Regions from separate parts of the Homo sapiens genome. Here regions 1 and 2 are each reported to be linked to region 3. Evidence: microRNA targets listed by miRTarBase, many of them from high-throughput screens and not tested one by one. Region 3 holds a microRNA gene; each other region holds the end of a gene's coding sequence.

Region 1 (5,071 bases), not on the chromosome of region 3:
GGCGTGAGCCACCGTGCCCAGCTCCAGCGATTCTTTTTTATTTTTAGTAGAGACGGGGTTTCACCATGTTAGCCAGGCTGGTCTCGAACTCCTGACTTCAAGAGTTCCGCCGGCCTCAGCCTCCCAAAGTGCTGGAATTACCGGTGTGAGCCACTGCACCTGGCCCAGAGTGATCTTAAACATAAATCAAATAATGTCTCCCACCTCTTCAAATCCTCCAAAGTCTTCCCGCTGCACCTGGACACATTCCCCGCTCCTTAGCTTGGCTCCCTATGCCCTATGCAATCTGCAGTCATCCACCCCTGAAGCCACATCAGCCTCCTGGCTCCTTGGAGAACACACCAAGCCGTTTGAACCCCAGGGCCTTTGCAACTTGGGATTCTTTTGCCTTAAATTATCTTCCCCCTCATCTTTGTTTTCTATATATTTATTTTTGAGACAAAGTCTTGCTCTGTTATCCAGACTTGAGTTCAGTGGTGTGATCATAGCTCACTGCAGCCTCAACCTCTCAGGCTCAAGCAGTCCTCCCACCTCAGTCCCCTGAGTAGCTGGGACCACAGGCAAGTGCCGCCATGCCCGGATATTTATTTATTTATTTATGTAGAGAAAGGGTCTCACTAGTTGCCCAGGCTGTTATTTATTTACTTATTTGAGATGGAGTTTCACTCTTGTTGCCCAGGTTGGAGTGCAATGGCGCTATCTCGGCTCACTGCAACGTCCACCTGCCGGGTTCAAGCCATTCTCCTGCCTCAGCCTCCTGAGTAGCTGGGACTACAGGCATGTGCCATCACGCCCAGCTAATTTTGTATTTTTAGTAGAGACAGGGTTTCTCCGTGTTGGTCAGGCTGGTCTCAAACTCCCGACCTCAAGTGATCCGCCGGCCTTGGCCTCCCAAAATTCTGAGATTACAGGCGTGAGCCACTGCGCCCGGCTGTATTTATTTATTTATTTATTTAAGGCAGGGACTTGCTCTGTTGCCTAGGCTGGAGTACTCCAGCCTGAAACTCCTGGGCTCAATCGATCCTCCCACCTCTGCTCCCCAAGTAGCTAGAACTATAGCCACGTGCCAGCATACCTAGCTAACTTTACAAATTTTAAAAATAGAGAGGTTATCCAGGCTGGTGTCTAACCCTGGGCCCCAAGCAATCCTCCTGCCTCCCAAAGTGCTAGGATTAAGGCATGAGCCATCGTGCTTGGCCTTGTTTTCTTTTTAAATTGGTGTAAAACACACACACTATTAAGTTGATTGGGAATGACATTTAGTACACTTGCAATGCTGTGCAACCATCACCACTGTCTAATTCCAGAACTTTCTCATCACTCCAAAAGAAAACACGTACCCCATTTATCTCCCCATTTCTCTCTCCTCTGTCCCTGGCAACCACGAATCTACTTTCTGTCTCTATGTATTTGTCAGTGCAGGAGATTTCTTTTGGATGGAATACTGCACTATGCAGCCTTCTGTATCCGGCTTCCTTCACTTGGCATAATATTTTCAGGACTCATCTATGCTGAAGCATGAATCAATGCTTTCTTCTGTTTTTATGACCAAATAATATTCCACTGTTGTTCTCCCTAACCTTTGCAAGCTTCGTTCCTTCTTGTCATTCAAGTCATGGCCCAGACCGCACCTCCTCAGCAAGGCTGCCCCTGACCACCCTCCCTAAGTTATGTCAGCCTTTTTACGTTTTGGTCCCAGTGTGGACGGCCATTTGTAATGGTTTTATTCTTCTATCGCTCTGCTTTCTTGTTGAGACAGAGACCCAAGGACCCCATTGCCATCATCTAAATCAATCCCAGGATTTAGAGACAGGCTCTCTGGCTGTGTGATTCTGAGCATTTCACAGGAATTCTCTCTCTCTCTCTCTCTCTCTTTTTTTAGATGGAGTTTTGCTCTTGTTGTCCAGGCTGGAGTGCAATGGCGCGATCTCGACTCACTGCAACCTCCACCTCCTGGGTTCAAGCGAGTCTCCTGCCTCAGCCTCCCTAGTAGCTGGGATTACAGGTGCTTGCCACGACACCCAGTTAATTTTTGTATTTTTAGTAGAGACAGGGTTTCAGCATGTTGGCCCAGCTGGTCTTGAATTCCTGACCATAGGTGATCCGCCCACCTCAGCCTCCCAAAGTGCTGGGATTACAGGCGTGAGCCACTACGCCCAGCCCCAAATTTTCTAAAGCACAGTTTGGACTCATTTGTCAACTGGGAATAATGATCATGTTTATTTCATGAGTTTGCTGTGAGGATTATTATTGGCAGTAATAGTAGTAACATAAAGGGCTGTCTTCATAAAGACATGCTCTACAGCCACACACACACACACACACACACACACACACACACACACACTCACACACATGAAAAGTTACTGAATTCCTTTGGAGAAAAATTAAAAATCTCATGGATATTATAATCTGTGTAGCTGTTCTATTTTCACTTTCCCGATTGGCTACCAGGAAGCTTAGGAGCAAGTAAGTTTGTTTGCTGCCTCCTTTTTTGGTACGTGGGGGTAATTTTTGCCTCATTCTCCACTTAATCTGCTGCTCAGAGAGTTCTCTGGCCAAATCTTATAGGTCTTTGTTCACCACCCAAAATTCTGTATGGGATGAGATAAGGTAGAAGCCAATGGAACTATCATCTTTGCTAGAAACAGAGTAGGAGGCAGCATTCGTTGAAAGAACAATGAGGTCAGATGCGGCGGCTCATGTCTACAGTCCCAGCTACTCACACAGGAGGATTGCAGGAGTTTGAAACCAGCCTGTGCAACATAGCAAGACCCCATCTCTAAAAAAGAAAAGAAAAGAAAAGAAAAAATTAGCTAGGCATGGTTGCATGTGCCTGTGGTCCCAGCTACTCAGGAGTCTGAGGCAGGAGGATCCCCTGAGCCCAGGAGGTTGAGGCTGCAGTGAGCTATGATTGCCCCACCGCACTCCAGCCAGGGTACACAGAGAAACCCTGTCAAAAAAAGAAGAAAGAAGAGGCTGAGGCAGAAGAATCGCTTGAACCCGGGAGGCAGGGGTTGCGGTGAGCCGAGATTGCACCATTGCCCTCCATTCTGGGCAACAACAGCGAAACTCCGTCTCAAAATTAAAAAAAAGAAGAAGAGAAGAAAAGAAATAGAAAAGAAAAGAAAAGAAGAAGGGCCGGGCGCGGTGGCTCACGCCTGTAATCCTAGCACATTGGGAGGCCGAGGCGGGCGGATCACGAGGTCAGGAGATCGAGATCATCCTGGCTAACACGGTGAAATGCCGTCTCTACTAAAAATACAAAAAAATTAGCCGGGTGTGGTGGCGGGCGCCTGTAGTCCCAGCTGCTCGGGAGGCTGAGGCAGGAGAATGGCGTGAACCCGGGAGGAGGAGCTTGCAGTGAGCCGAAATCGTGCCACTGCACTCCAGCCTGGGCGACAAAGTGAGACTTCATCTCAAAAAAACAAAAACAAAAACAAAAAAACAAACAAACAAAAAAAAAACAAGAGAAAAAGAAAGAAAAGGAAAGACAGAAAGAAAACAAAAAGGAAAAAAGAAAAGAAAAAAGAAAGAGGTGAAGTTGAAATCATTGGCTTTCCTTGCTGAACTCCAACCTCTCTCGCAGGCTCTGGAGATTGTATTCCCTGGCTCCGCGCCTCTCCTTTGTTTTGATGGCAGTAAGTCGCTTGGGGGGTCAGGTCTGTGTTTGGATATTCTGGGGCCCCAGCACTCAACAGAAGACCTCAGGGAATATGGAATGGAAGGAAGAAAAAAAAGAGAGGGAGGGAGGGATGCAGAAATGGGTATGAAAATCGATGTGAGTCATGGGTGAGCAAGCGAGTGGATAAATTCATGGACAAGCAAGGGAGTTCTCGCGGACTCCTCACAGCCAGCGTGTGGCAGGAATTATTATTATCCCAACATTCTCCAGAGGAGGAAACCCAGGCTCAGAGTGGTGAGTGAGGAATGAACGGGTGAGAGTGTGAGGGAGTCCATGGGGTCAGGCCAGTCTCTCAGAGGCTTTCAGGACGAACAGCACTCACACCGCCCTGCGAGCGCCCATTCCTGGAAACGAGGTTTCCTCTTGGGTCCCAGCCCTTGCCCACCCCCATCAAGGAGCATGGGCCCAGGCCACCGGAGCTGCTGAATATTTATTTGGCCCCAGGAGCAGTGCAGGGATGGGCTGTGTTGGAAGAGAGAGGAGAGCAGACGAGGATGGCTGATTGTCAAAGCAGGGGGCAGGACCCGGGGGCAGGAGAAACCAGGCTGCCTTCCCTTCCCGGGGTCCCTGGGGCATCTGGGTGTGTCCGCGAGGGTCGGGGGAGTGTGCTGGAAAGTTGTCGTGATTGGCATCGTTGGGGGTGAGAAGACAGGAATGGTTCAGATGGTTGGGGTGGAAGGTGGGGGGAGGGTAACCGTCAGAGGAAGCTTAAGGGTGGGGCTGGCTTGGCTTTGGCCGGTCTCGGGAGTCTGGGGTCAGGGGCTAGAGTCCAGGCTTGGCCGGGGGCTTGGGGTGGGAGTCAGGGCGCAGGCAGCAGCCTCACTCGGTCCGGGGGCCGCAGCGAGTGCCACTGGGCAATGGGCCGCCGCGGGTTGGCCAGCATGTCCGCCCAGTGCCGCAGGCCAGCCCCGCCGGCGGCCGCCCCCACGGCCACCCTCCCGATGGCCTCGTTCTTGCCCAGCTTGTCGTAGTCCAGCACGGTCAGCTCCACCTGCACCTTCTGGGGTGGGCGCGGGAGGAAGAGGAGAGAGGAGCGTGAGGGGAGGAGGCCCCGGAAGGGGCGGTGTCCGTTTTCACGGCTGAGGGTACCTCTCGCTGCCACCCGAGGGCTCGGGGCCCCGGAGCTCGGGACGGGGGAGGGGGTGGGAGACGAGAGGGACGGAGCCTGCGGCGAGGAGGAGGCTCTGGCGCCTTTCTTCCTGCGCAGCCAGGTTTCTAAGGAAATGAACCCTCAGGACTCGGTTGCGGAGCGGGTGTGTTCGGCGCCTCCTGGGGGAGCAGCCTCCTAAGAGCCGCAAAGCTGCAGAACTTTAACAGGGGCCGGGCTAGGGTAGGCGCCGTCCCTAAAGAAGTGAGGGGAGGTCTCTTTTTCTTAGAACCACGTTC
Region 2 (5,071 bases), not on the chromosome of region 3:
ATTTACAATTTTGCTATTACAAGCTTTCCTATGAGATCTAGAAGCTTGAAAAGTCTTGGTTATTATTAGAAATAAAGCAATGTTTATTTGGGGGAAAACCTAGAGAACAAAATTTCCCCTTTTAAAATGCTAGCTAGGCTATGGTCACAGATGGTCTCTGCTTACCACTGTAAGGTAAATGTGCAAAGCACACAGGGCTGCACGGAGGAGGCTGGACTGTGACCATAAACTGTTCAGATTTAGAGATCAAATATAACACCCACAAAGAGAAAATAAAAATAAATCAAAAAATGAGAGCAAGAGAAATGCTATACCAAGTAATATTTTCCTATTTCATGGAAAACGCTATTCATATGGCAAGAGGATAGGAGAGGGCAACAAAAGACTTTTCCCTTCCTTTTTAAGACACTAATAGGTATGCCGGGAATGCTAAGGGCCAATGGTTGTCACTGCTTTGTTCTCTGCACGTGAACCGCTTTAATGTATGCTGGCATCAGCTGAGTGTAGATCAGCTTTCCACATTAACTTTTTCCCTTTATATGTAGACCTTACAGTTTCATAACAATAAATAAAATTTGTAGTTACAATGCATTTGTCAATTCAGTTTAGGCACAAGGCAACTTCCACGGTGAGTGGAGAGATCGAGACAGTCTCTGATTGTGCAGAAGCGACACACTGCTTGCAACAAAAGATTTGTTGCAAACATCTCATGGGCTGATGTTCTATCTGATGAGCTTCCTATCTTCACTTCTGATGGAAGTGTTGACCAGTTGCTTTGATCGTAGGATTACATTTGAGTTTCTTGGTTCAAGTGTTTTGTTTTTTCTTCTCCCTCCTGTCAGGTTTGTGTCTTCAGATAATCTGAGTTGTCCAAGTCCTTATGAGGAGAGGTCACCTTCTATCTAGCCTACTGATAACTCTGGAACTGTGGCAGGGACAGCCAAGGGAGAGGACAATACCAGTTAGTACATAATTGTTAAAAATAAAACACCTTCCCCCTCCCACCAACAAAAAAATGCTGGTATTCCTCATCTATATCCAGGTCTGCACTAAATTTGTAGTCTGCTAAGTGACTTAATGAACTTTTTCCTTTTAAGGTATACTGAAATGGTTTTACTTGATGTGTATGGTAAGGTTTTTTGTTTGTTTCTTTTCAGACAGTGTCTTGCTCTATCACCCTCGCTGGAGCGCAGTGGCATGATCATGGCTCAACGCAGCCTTCAACTCCTGGGCTCAAGCAATCCTCCCACCTCAGTCTTTGAGTAGCTGGGACTACAGGTGTGCACCACCACACCCGGCTATATGGTAAGATTTTTAAAGGAGATCATGCGATTACAGAATCACAAACTATAGGCGTATAAAACAGCTGCCGCAATGATGCAAACCTTCATTTTAATAACACTCAAGTTGGCAATAACTGAGCTCTGAGGTGCTACTCATTCATTCCTCAGTAGTGAGACAATGGTAAAGCCCTCAATTTGCTGCTGCCTCCACTCAACCACAGTGTTAATAGTTTACATTTATTTCATCTAAACTGAGAGCACCTGAGGTCAGAGGCTACCTTGCATTCATTTTCATATTGGTCCCAGTTCCTGGTCCACAGTAGGTCCTCAACAAATGTTTGCTATTTATTAAGAATATTTTACTCTATTAGTACAAATTCTATACATACTTATGTTCCCAATATAATATATATAGCAGTAACTCTGAAATTTTCTACTTTAAATTTTTAATAAAATAGTTTTAGATAGAATCATAACTTTTACTTCCTTATTAAACAATAACCACAGTATTGTTTAGGTACACAGCAATGCTCTTAGGGACGGAAAACTAAGATATTCAAAGCTACTTGGCCTACATTACAGGATGGCAAATTTTTGTACGTTTATAACCAGTCATTCTGTGGTCATGTCTTAGCCATTTTGATTCTAGTAGCATTGTTCCTGCTGCCCTGTCTCTTGCTACTTTTAATCTGCTATCCAATTTATGAAACCAGATAACTATCTTTATGAAATTAGCAACCTTAACACATATTCTAAGATGACAAACACTAGCCTATACAATCTATGGAACAAAGTGCATTCACTACATGTCTCATATCTTGATGCCTTTTTAAACTTAAAAGAATTCTTGATCCTTTTTTGATAGGTGGGAATGCCCAAAGTTTAATTTTAACCTAAGTGGGAAAATTTCCACATTATAAAGAGATAAAGGTAGAGCTATGAGAGCAGTATGAAATAGAGAAGTAGTAAAAGCACAGGAAGTAAACAGAAGGAAACGAGATGAGAATAAGAAGACAAAGTTGAACGAGTAAGAGAGACTGAGAAGAAAACAAGAGGAAATGGGTAGAACTAACTAGAGCGAGACAAGAAAAATAAGACACAGGCTCCAAGAGAAGTGTTAGGGCAGAATGCCTAGTGCTCTTTTTCACAGCTTGGTGGTTATCTGGGACCTGAGCATAAGTTACCTCTCCCATCACTCTTCTTTGAAATAATCTATCAGTTTAGAAAGTCTCTTTTGCACTGAGAAATAGTGGCATGGTTTTATTTTAAAACTTCAAAGTTAATTTTTTGGCCGGGCTCAGCGGCTCACGCCTGTAACGCCAGCACTTGGGGAAGCCGAGGTGGTCGGATCGCTTGAGGTCAGGAGTTTGAGACCAGGCTGGGCAGCCTGGCGAAACGCTGTCTCTACTAAAAATACAAAAAAATTAGCTGGGCGTGGTGGTGTATGTCTGTAATCCCAGCTACTCAGGAGGCTGAGGTGGAAGAATTGCTCAAACCCAGGAGGCGGGAGTTGGAGTGAGCCGAGATGATCACACCATTGCACTCCAGCTCAGGCGACAGAGTCAAACTCCATCTCAAAACAAACAAACAAACAACAACAACAACAAAAAAATCCCAGAACAAACAAAAAAACTTCAAAGTTTATTTTTGAAGCAAAAATACTTACTGTTTCATAGTAGTCTATATTTTCTACAGAGTATGAAACAATGATCTAGGTTTTAGAGGATCTGTAAACTAGCTCTTGCCTAAAGTCCCTGACATGTACAATCTGTTAGATTGCTGGATACTTTTTGTGGGGGAGGTAGTTTGAGGTTTTCTCCAGTGTGCTAATGTTACAGTTATAACTGACTTACGAAATAACTGCCTTAACTCTTCTTTTCTTTTACCCTAAATGAAATCTTCTTTGTGGTCTGGTTTGACCCTATATGTAGTCTCATTTGACCCTATATGTAGTCTCATTTGACCCTATATATGTAGTGGCGGTAGGAACTAAAACCCTCAGGAAAAGGTGAGTTACTAATATTTGTAGTTTATCTATCAAACAATCTATCAAATTCCAGACTTTCAGTTCAAAATGAGACAGCCACGAAACTGACCAAATGAAACTGCACTTGATATTTTTTTCTGTTCCACACCCCGCACTCATCTGCCTTTACTTACTACCTTTAATCTGTTGATAAAATTGGGAAAAAAACTACATACTGCTGAAAGCAGATTATAAAAATGAAGTTACCAGCTGGGCGAGGTGGCTCATGCCTGTAATCCTAGCACTTTGGGAGGCTGAGGCGGGTGGATCACCTGAGGTTAGGAGTTCGAGACCAGCCTGGCCAACATCGTGAAATCCCATCTCTACTAAAAATACAAAAATTAGCCGGGCATGGTGGTGCACACCTGTAATCCCAGCTAGTCTACTCGGGAGGCTGAGGCAGGAGAATTGCTGGAACCTGGGAAGCAGAGACTGCAGTTAGCTGAGATCGTGCCACTGCACTCCAGCCTGGGCAACAGAGCGAGACTCTGTCTTGAGGAAAAAAAAAAAAAATCACAAGGAACTGAATTATGTTTAGTCCATGAAAAGGAAGATATAAAGAACAGTCTTTGAACAAGTAAAATTCCACCAGAGAGAAGGGCATTCTGGCTCTAACATATATAATAACTTCCCATTCATTAATAGATTCTAGAGGGTGTTAACTGATGTGCTTGCAAGTGGGGAAGAAGCATCATATCATAAACTTGCATTATTGATCCAAATACAAGTGATAACTTTTTCATGTATAAAGGCTTCATGACAAAAAGCTAGATAATTGGCAGAAAACTGGTTGATGATATAGTCAGCATTTCTGAATAAAGAAATGAAGAACATGAGTGGTAACAAGAGCGTTTTCTGACGGTTGAGTCATTGTACTATTTCTTCTTGGATCAGGAAGATACTCATGTAAGAGAGTACACATGATGACTCCGAACAGAAGAACCAAAGTCACAAGATACTGCCACACTTTGAAGAAAATGGCAATTTGCTATAAAATGACACTGGCTCTCTAAGTCTGATAATGTAACAGAAAGACAAACTGTTATATTTCAAATTACATGTGACCTTTACAATGGCCACTGCTCACTAGAGAATTCTGTTCAAAGATTCTAACCCAGTTTAAGATGAATCTTAAGGTTATTTCCTTGCTGTTTCTTTTCAAACCCGTACTTACCTGGCTGATGTTTACATATGACCCATAGGGTTGGTAGTTTCACTAAGCCCAGGATGGGTTCCTGGCAGTGTGGTTGGCGGCTCTGCCGATACGGCAGAAACTTTTTCTTCTTCCCTTCTCTTAAGGCAGGCTGCTTTGGGGTTAAGGTTCCTCTCTAAAACAGGGGGAAAGAATTTTTATCACTATGGTTTTAAGTTATGAATTAGGTCTCAAGCTGAACAAATTGCTGTTGTTTTGTGTAACTTCATTCCCATACTAAGTACCATCACATAGAAGAAACAATGTGCTCACATAAAACCTCAGCATTGAACTGAGCCTCCAGATTTATACTTCTAAGTGACCATCTTGTGTTTTCTTCATTTTTTGCTTATGATTTAGTTTTCTAGGGTTTGATTTGATTTAAATCAAAATGCTACTCTTCACTCAAACATTTTGGCAAATGCTGTTGTTATTAGGCTACCAAGTCTCTTCAATGTCCTACTAAGACACGGTACACTGAATTGACATGAATGCTGACATCTTGTACTTAGAGAGAGACACCTGTGCTTTATCTAAAATGTTACCAGTTCAGAAAAGGATAAAGTAAGA
Region 3 (5,000 bases):
CCTCTGTCCCAGGCTGCACTCCTGTTCCTCTCCAGGAGTCTTGACGTCTTTTCCCACCTCCGCGTCCTCTCTTCCTCTCATAGCTTCTCCTCCCACTCTCCATCTCTCTCCTGCATACTTCCTGCCCCCACCTACTCCTGTGTCTCCAGCCCACTCCTCCCACAAACCTCCAAATAGTCACCTTGAGAACACTGGGAGAAAGCACCTAACTCAAGAGAAGCGCCCACAGAATGGGAAACCCAGGAAGGCAGCTAGAGGGGAAACAGGGGGTGCCAGGCAAGTGTCATCTACGCCTCTTTTGCTTCCTGCCTCCTGTTCCGGTGGGCAATATACACAGCCTCTTATCTTCCCAGAGGACAGGGCCCTTCAAGAGCACAGGAGAACGTATCGACCTCTGTGCCTAGCATGGGTCTGGCACTAGCAAGCACAGCCGCCCAGTCAGGGTGACTGGCAGAACTGCCCCAAAGGAGGCATCCTGTAGGCTCAGACCAGAGAAGCCCGCTTCAGCTGAGCCTCGGCCCCTGGCCTCAGCCCAGCACCCAAGCTGACTCTATGCCTCCTCGCAGCCTTACAGCACCCCCAGCCTGCAGAGTCAGAGACAAGAAAGCAGAACAAGGCGGTTCCTCCTCCTTCCTCCCCACACACCCACGCCTGCCACCTGGCCAAGGAGACGCCTCTCAAAGACACTGGTGCCTTGGATGTGCAAAGAGGAACTGCCTGTGAGTGCGAAGATCTTGCAGCCCCAGACTTCTCTCAATGAGGCTGAGCTGGATCAGGGTGAGGAGAATAGAGGAAAGAGGCTTGGCAACCCTTGGGAGGCTTAGTCTGAAGGAGGAGGCAAGACAGAGACCCAGAACGCAGCTGAACTAGCCCAACTGTCAGTGTCATGCTTGAGTGAGGCATCAGGCTTTGGGGAGGGGAAGGTACCTTTCCCAAGCACCTCCTGTGGCTAGAGGTTTCCACCAGCCGTTCCCCAATTTTCATGTGCACCAGAACCACCCAGAGTGCTTGTTAAAGTGCAGATTGCTGGCCCCACCCCCAGGGTTTCTGATACAGTAGGTCTGGGACGAGGTCCAAGAACTTGCGTTTCCAAACATTCCTAGATGACACTGATGCTGCTGGTCGGGGGACCACACCTCGAGACCCACTGACACTATCTTGGATCCTCCTACAAGCCCAAGAGGTGCCTGTTTGGGTCATCCCATTGTACAGGTGAAGAGGCTAAGGACTGGAGGGGAGGGGCCTTGCTCAGGTGAGAACAGCCAATGAGGGGACGCCCCAGGGAAGGTCCCAATGGAGGGGAGAGGCTGGGGGTGGAAGGACAGAGGGAGACTAGTGGTGGGGAGATATGGATAACAAGGCAGTATGGACGGGGCCACTCGCAGCGCAGGAGCCCAGTCTTAAAGGAGGGACCTGCCAGAGACCTTTCCTCCTCCCTCTTTCTCTTCCTCCCCTCCCTCCTCTACTTACCCCCTCCCGCTCCATGCCCCCATCCCTCCACCCTCCTGCCCACCCTTCGCAGACTCCGGCTTCAGTTGTTACTCCAACAGGGCCGCGTCTCCAGCCTCCGAGCCACACTGGAGACACGTGCACTGTAGAATACACCTGAGCCAGTCCCAGTGCCTCCCAAGGGTGTCCCCATCCACAGGAGCCTGACCCCACACTGTTGGCTCCTCCCTTCCAGCGCCCACAACCAGCTCCGCCCCGGCCTCTCGCCCTTCCCAAGCCAGTCCCAGCTTCTATTCCAGCTCCTGCCTCCTCCAAAATGACCTCCCGGTTGTCCCCCGCACCCTTGGATCCATCAGGAGCTAGGTTTGGGGGTGGATGAAGGAATGGGAAGAGGGAAAGAGCAGGAGAAGGCAGGCAAGAGTTGCCTGCACGATCAGTTCCCTGAGGGCCTGACTCACTGGAATCACCTCAGTCCCTCACCCAGAGTCTGGAGTCAGGAAAGGAGGGAACAGTCAGAGTGGGTAGAGGGAGGGAGGCAGGAGCTGAGTGTGGGGAGGGGGAGGATGGCCCTGCAAGGCAGACATCAGATCAAGCGGGGCAGAGCCAGCTCAGGTCTCCTCCCACCCCCTCCCACCTTCAGCTGCTTCATCTACAGGGAAGAACCGAGAGTGGTCCCATTTCTGCTGCCCACATTCTCCTGGACACCACAAACTTCCTCCCAAACACATCACAGCATCCCCCTCTCCATGCCATCACAGTCATCCTGGTCACCTGGCATTCTAGCTATCCTTGTCCTCTGGCCTGGGGCCCACGAGGCAGCTCGCGGCAGTCACAAGGAGGCAGATTTGGGCACACTGTGAATCAGAGTCGCGCCACAAAAGAGAGCCTGAGCAGGATGGATGAGGGGGCTCCTAGTCCCCAAGGGTGTGCAAGCAAGGGCCAAGGCCCTGCCACCAGGGAGCCTGTGCCCTGAGAAAGGCCCCTGGTGAGGTGGCAGGCCTCCAGCTCTGAGTTTGGTGACCCTGAATGTCTGTACACCCTCCTCAGCCTCACCCCCTCAGGGTGGGTTGGGAGCTGAGCAAAGCAAGTCCAGGAGCCTCCAAGAGGCAGGCATGGTGGCTCAAGCAGGAGAGGAGGAGGACGCTGAGTGTCCCGCTGGGTCAGTGTCAGAAGAGAGTTTACATCCCTCAGGAAATGATGGCCAAAGGAATAATTGAATGGGTGGATGGATGAATGACGAATGAATGAATGGAGTGATCTCCCTTCTCTGGATCCCCTCCAGGGAGAGTCTGTTGTTGTTCTCTCTCCAGGCAAGTCTGACCCTCCCACCTGGGGCTCCCACTGCCCCCCTTTCCCCCACCATGGCATGCACTGTGTGCATCAATGCAGTGCCACCCTTTCCCGTCTGGCTCCCACAACAGACTGGGAGCTTTTGGAGGGCAGAGATTGTGTCCTGCCCCTCTCCAGGTCTCCAGCATTACCCAGCCCCTCATAGGTGTTGGTAGGCGTTTGCTGAGCTGTAAATGACTGGGTAAACTCCTGTGTGCCCAGGACTACTGTACTGTGAGGGCTACATGCCATCAGGGAGAAGAGGGGTGTGGAGGAAGGATCTAGGCAGGGGAGATAGCTGAGACCTCTCAAAGCCTCCCCAGTCTGGCACAGTTACAGTCTCAGAGAAGGAGCCTGAGGAATGGGGTGTCTCCTACTGAGAGCCTTTGGCAACCTCTCCCAGGCACCTCTGCAGGCCGGGAGGCCCTTTGTGCTTCAGGATCATCTCCACGTGCAGACCGGGTGGGGGCAGCAGGTCAGGATGGAGGGCTCTTCCCCAAGAGGAGCACTGTCACTATCACCTTCTTTCATGAGTGAGGACACCTCCTCCAGGAAGCCTTCCTGCGTGGTCACCTGTCCCCCTCCCAGGCCTTCTGAGAATTCCCAGGGACCAGGGGCTACAGGGCCTCAGGCCTCATGTAGTCCAATCCCAAGCTTGATGGGGTAGACTAAGGCCAGAGGAGGCAGGGAAGGATTCACCCAGGCTCTCATCTGGAGCCAGGAGACCCATGCTTCAGCCCAGCCCTTTGGGCCACACTAGGACACCTTGTCCCAGAGTCCTGCTTGTCTTTGGGGCCCCTCTAATACCTGCCTTGGCCAGGGGATGGGCTGAGCCCTCTCAGATGTCGGGTAAGGCTGAGTATCTGCCTCCAGGCCAGAGACTGGGTCTCTTATGTCCTCACTGTGCCCATTGTGTGTGGGAGGTAAATGCTGAAGGAGGCGGCCTGGCCTAGGGTTAGTGTGGGCCTGCAGAGGGCGGGGAGGAAGGGCCAGCCTGGGGTAGGGCTGGTGGGGTGGATGGCGGGAGGCAAGCCCAGCCATGCTGGTCTTCTTAGGGACAAGATAGAGAGCAGGGCACAGAGGCTGGCTGCCCGGTGATGCCTGCCCTGGGGCTCTCCCTGACTGTCCCAGCGTGTTTTCTCCCTGCCTCTCAGCCTCCCTGGGCGCTCTCTCTGTGCCTGGCCACCTCTCTCTGTCTGTGCTCTGCGGCATGTGTGTATCCCACAGCCTCCCGCTGCTTTGTCCTATGACTGTATTTGGCTCTCTCAACAGAGCTTGGCCCATCCCAGCTGTTCCCCAAACCCCAGGGGGAGGGGGAAAGTGGAAGTATGAGAAAGAGAGACAGGGACAGAACAAGTACCAATTCAGAAGCAGAGGGATAGACATAAGAGCCGGTAGGGAACCCCAGGGACAGGCGGAGGCTGGAGAGGCAGGGCTGGCTGGGGAAGCCCCTGAGGAGAAGTCCCTGAAGACCAAGGCAGAGTTGGGAGAAGAGCGGGGTCCACCCTCTTCCTCTGCACTGACTCCTGCCCCCTTTCCCTCTCTCTGCCCCTGCAGGAATGTGTGAGCACTTTTATTGTTCCTAAAAATAGCCTTTCTCTTTGGGGGGTTGGGATAAGCAATCTTCTGAGTGGGGTCCGTCTGGGGCACGCCTGCCCTCCGGGGTCCCAGCCACCATGCTCCCCAGGGCCGGGGTCTCTCAGCTCCTCTCTCCCAGCGCAGTGCTTTGTTAAACATAAATGTGACCCTGTCCCTCCCTTGCACAAGACTGTCATAGCTCCTGGGAACACCCCCTCCCCTCCTCCAGAGTGACAGGCTCCGAGCAAAGTGCTCAGCACACAGCCTGGAGCAGGGCTCGTGGTCACCTTACCTCATCAAGGAGCTGAGGGTGAGGAGCTGCTCGCTCCCTCCATCCAGGCACTGCCTGCTCTGGCCTCAGGCCTCTTCGCAGCGCCCCAGTCTGATTCCCTGCACCCCTCCAGCCTCCCCACTCCCAGCCTTTGCTCCTCCGTTTCCTGCACTGTGGTGTCCTCTCTTCTCTCCTGCTCTTCCTGCTCTGGCCCTCCAGAAACCCCCAGCCCTCTCCCCTGGTCTTGTCCTCCCCCTATCACTGGGACTCTCATCCTTCTCCCGTCCCCCTCACAGAGCAAGCAAGGGGCTGAGCCACAGGGCCCTGGGCAGGTGGGGCACCAAGGCACAGAGCCCTCCTCCAGTGAGGGAGA

What was found. The annotated mature microRNA hsa-miR-139-5p reads UCUACAGUGCACGUGUCUCCAGU and lies in region 3 at 1,577-1,599, opposite strand. An mRNA with a match to its seed (bases 2 to 7 or 8) in the 3' UTR can be bound and repressed. Matches are read on the target gene's strand: a 7mer-m8 pairs with bases 2 to 8, a 7mer-A1 pairs with bases 2 to 7 and ends in A, and an 8mer does both.
Region 1: the mRNA of SYT5 is a reported target of hsa-miR-139-5p. Seed matches in the 3' UTR shown: 8mer at 2,706-2,713 and 7mer-A1 at 2,299-2,305.
Region 2: miRTarBase lists TCF12 as a target of hsa-miR-139-5p. The part of its 3' UTR that is shown has no 7-base or 8-base seed match.

The regions. Positions count from the first base shown.
Region 1 is chr19:55,169,000-55,174,070 of GRCh38, forward strand. SYT5 (synaptotagmin 5) reads right to left here. Exons shown (of 9, transcript NM_003180.3): 9 at 2,197-4,685. The coding sequence ends at 4,485. Among named protein-coding and RNA genes, the nearest start is that of DNAAF3, 4.9 kb to the left of the region's middle.
Region 2 is chr15:57,282,011-57,287,081 of GRCh38, reverse strand. TCF12 (transcription factor 12) reads right to left here. Exons shown (of 21, transcript NM_207037.2): 20 at 4,484-4,637; 21 at 1-925. The coding sequence ends at 4,495. Among named protein-coding and RNA genes, the nearest start is that of SNORD13D, 5.9 kb to the right of the region's middle. RefSeq lists an enhancer at 2,244-2,303.
Region 3 is chr11:72,613,526-72,618,525 of GRCh38, forward strand. MIR139 (microRNA 139) reads right to left here and starts at 1,605; the gene lies at 1,538-1,605. The region is part of intron 2 of PDE2A (phosphodiesterase 2A); the gene reads right to left. It overlaps LOC105369377 (a long non-coding RNA gene), which reads left to right. Exons shown (of 4, transcript XR_001748292.2): 2 at 567-777; 3 at 1,104-1,212. RefSeq lists enhancers at 513-612, 4,856-5,000.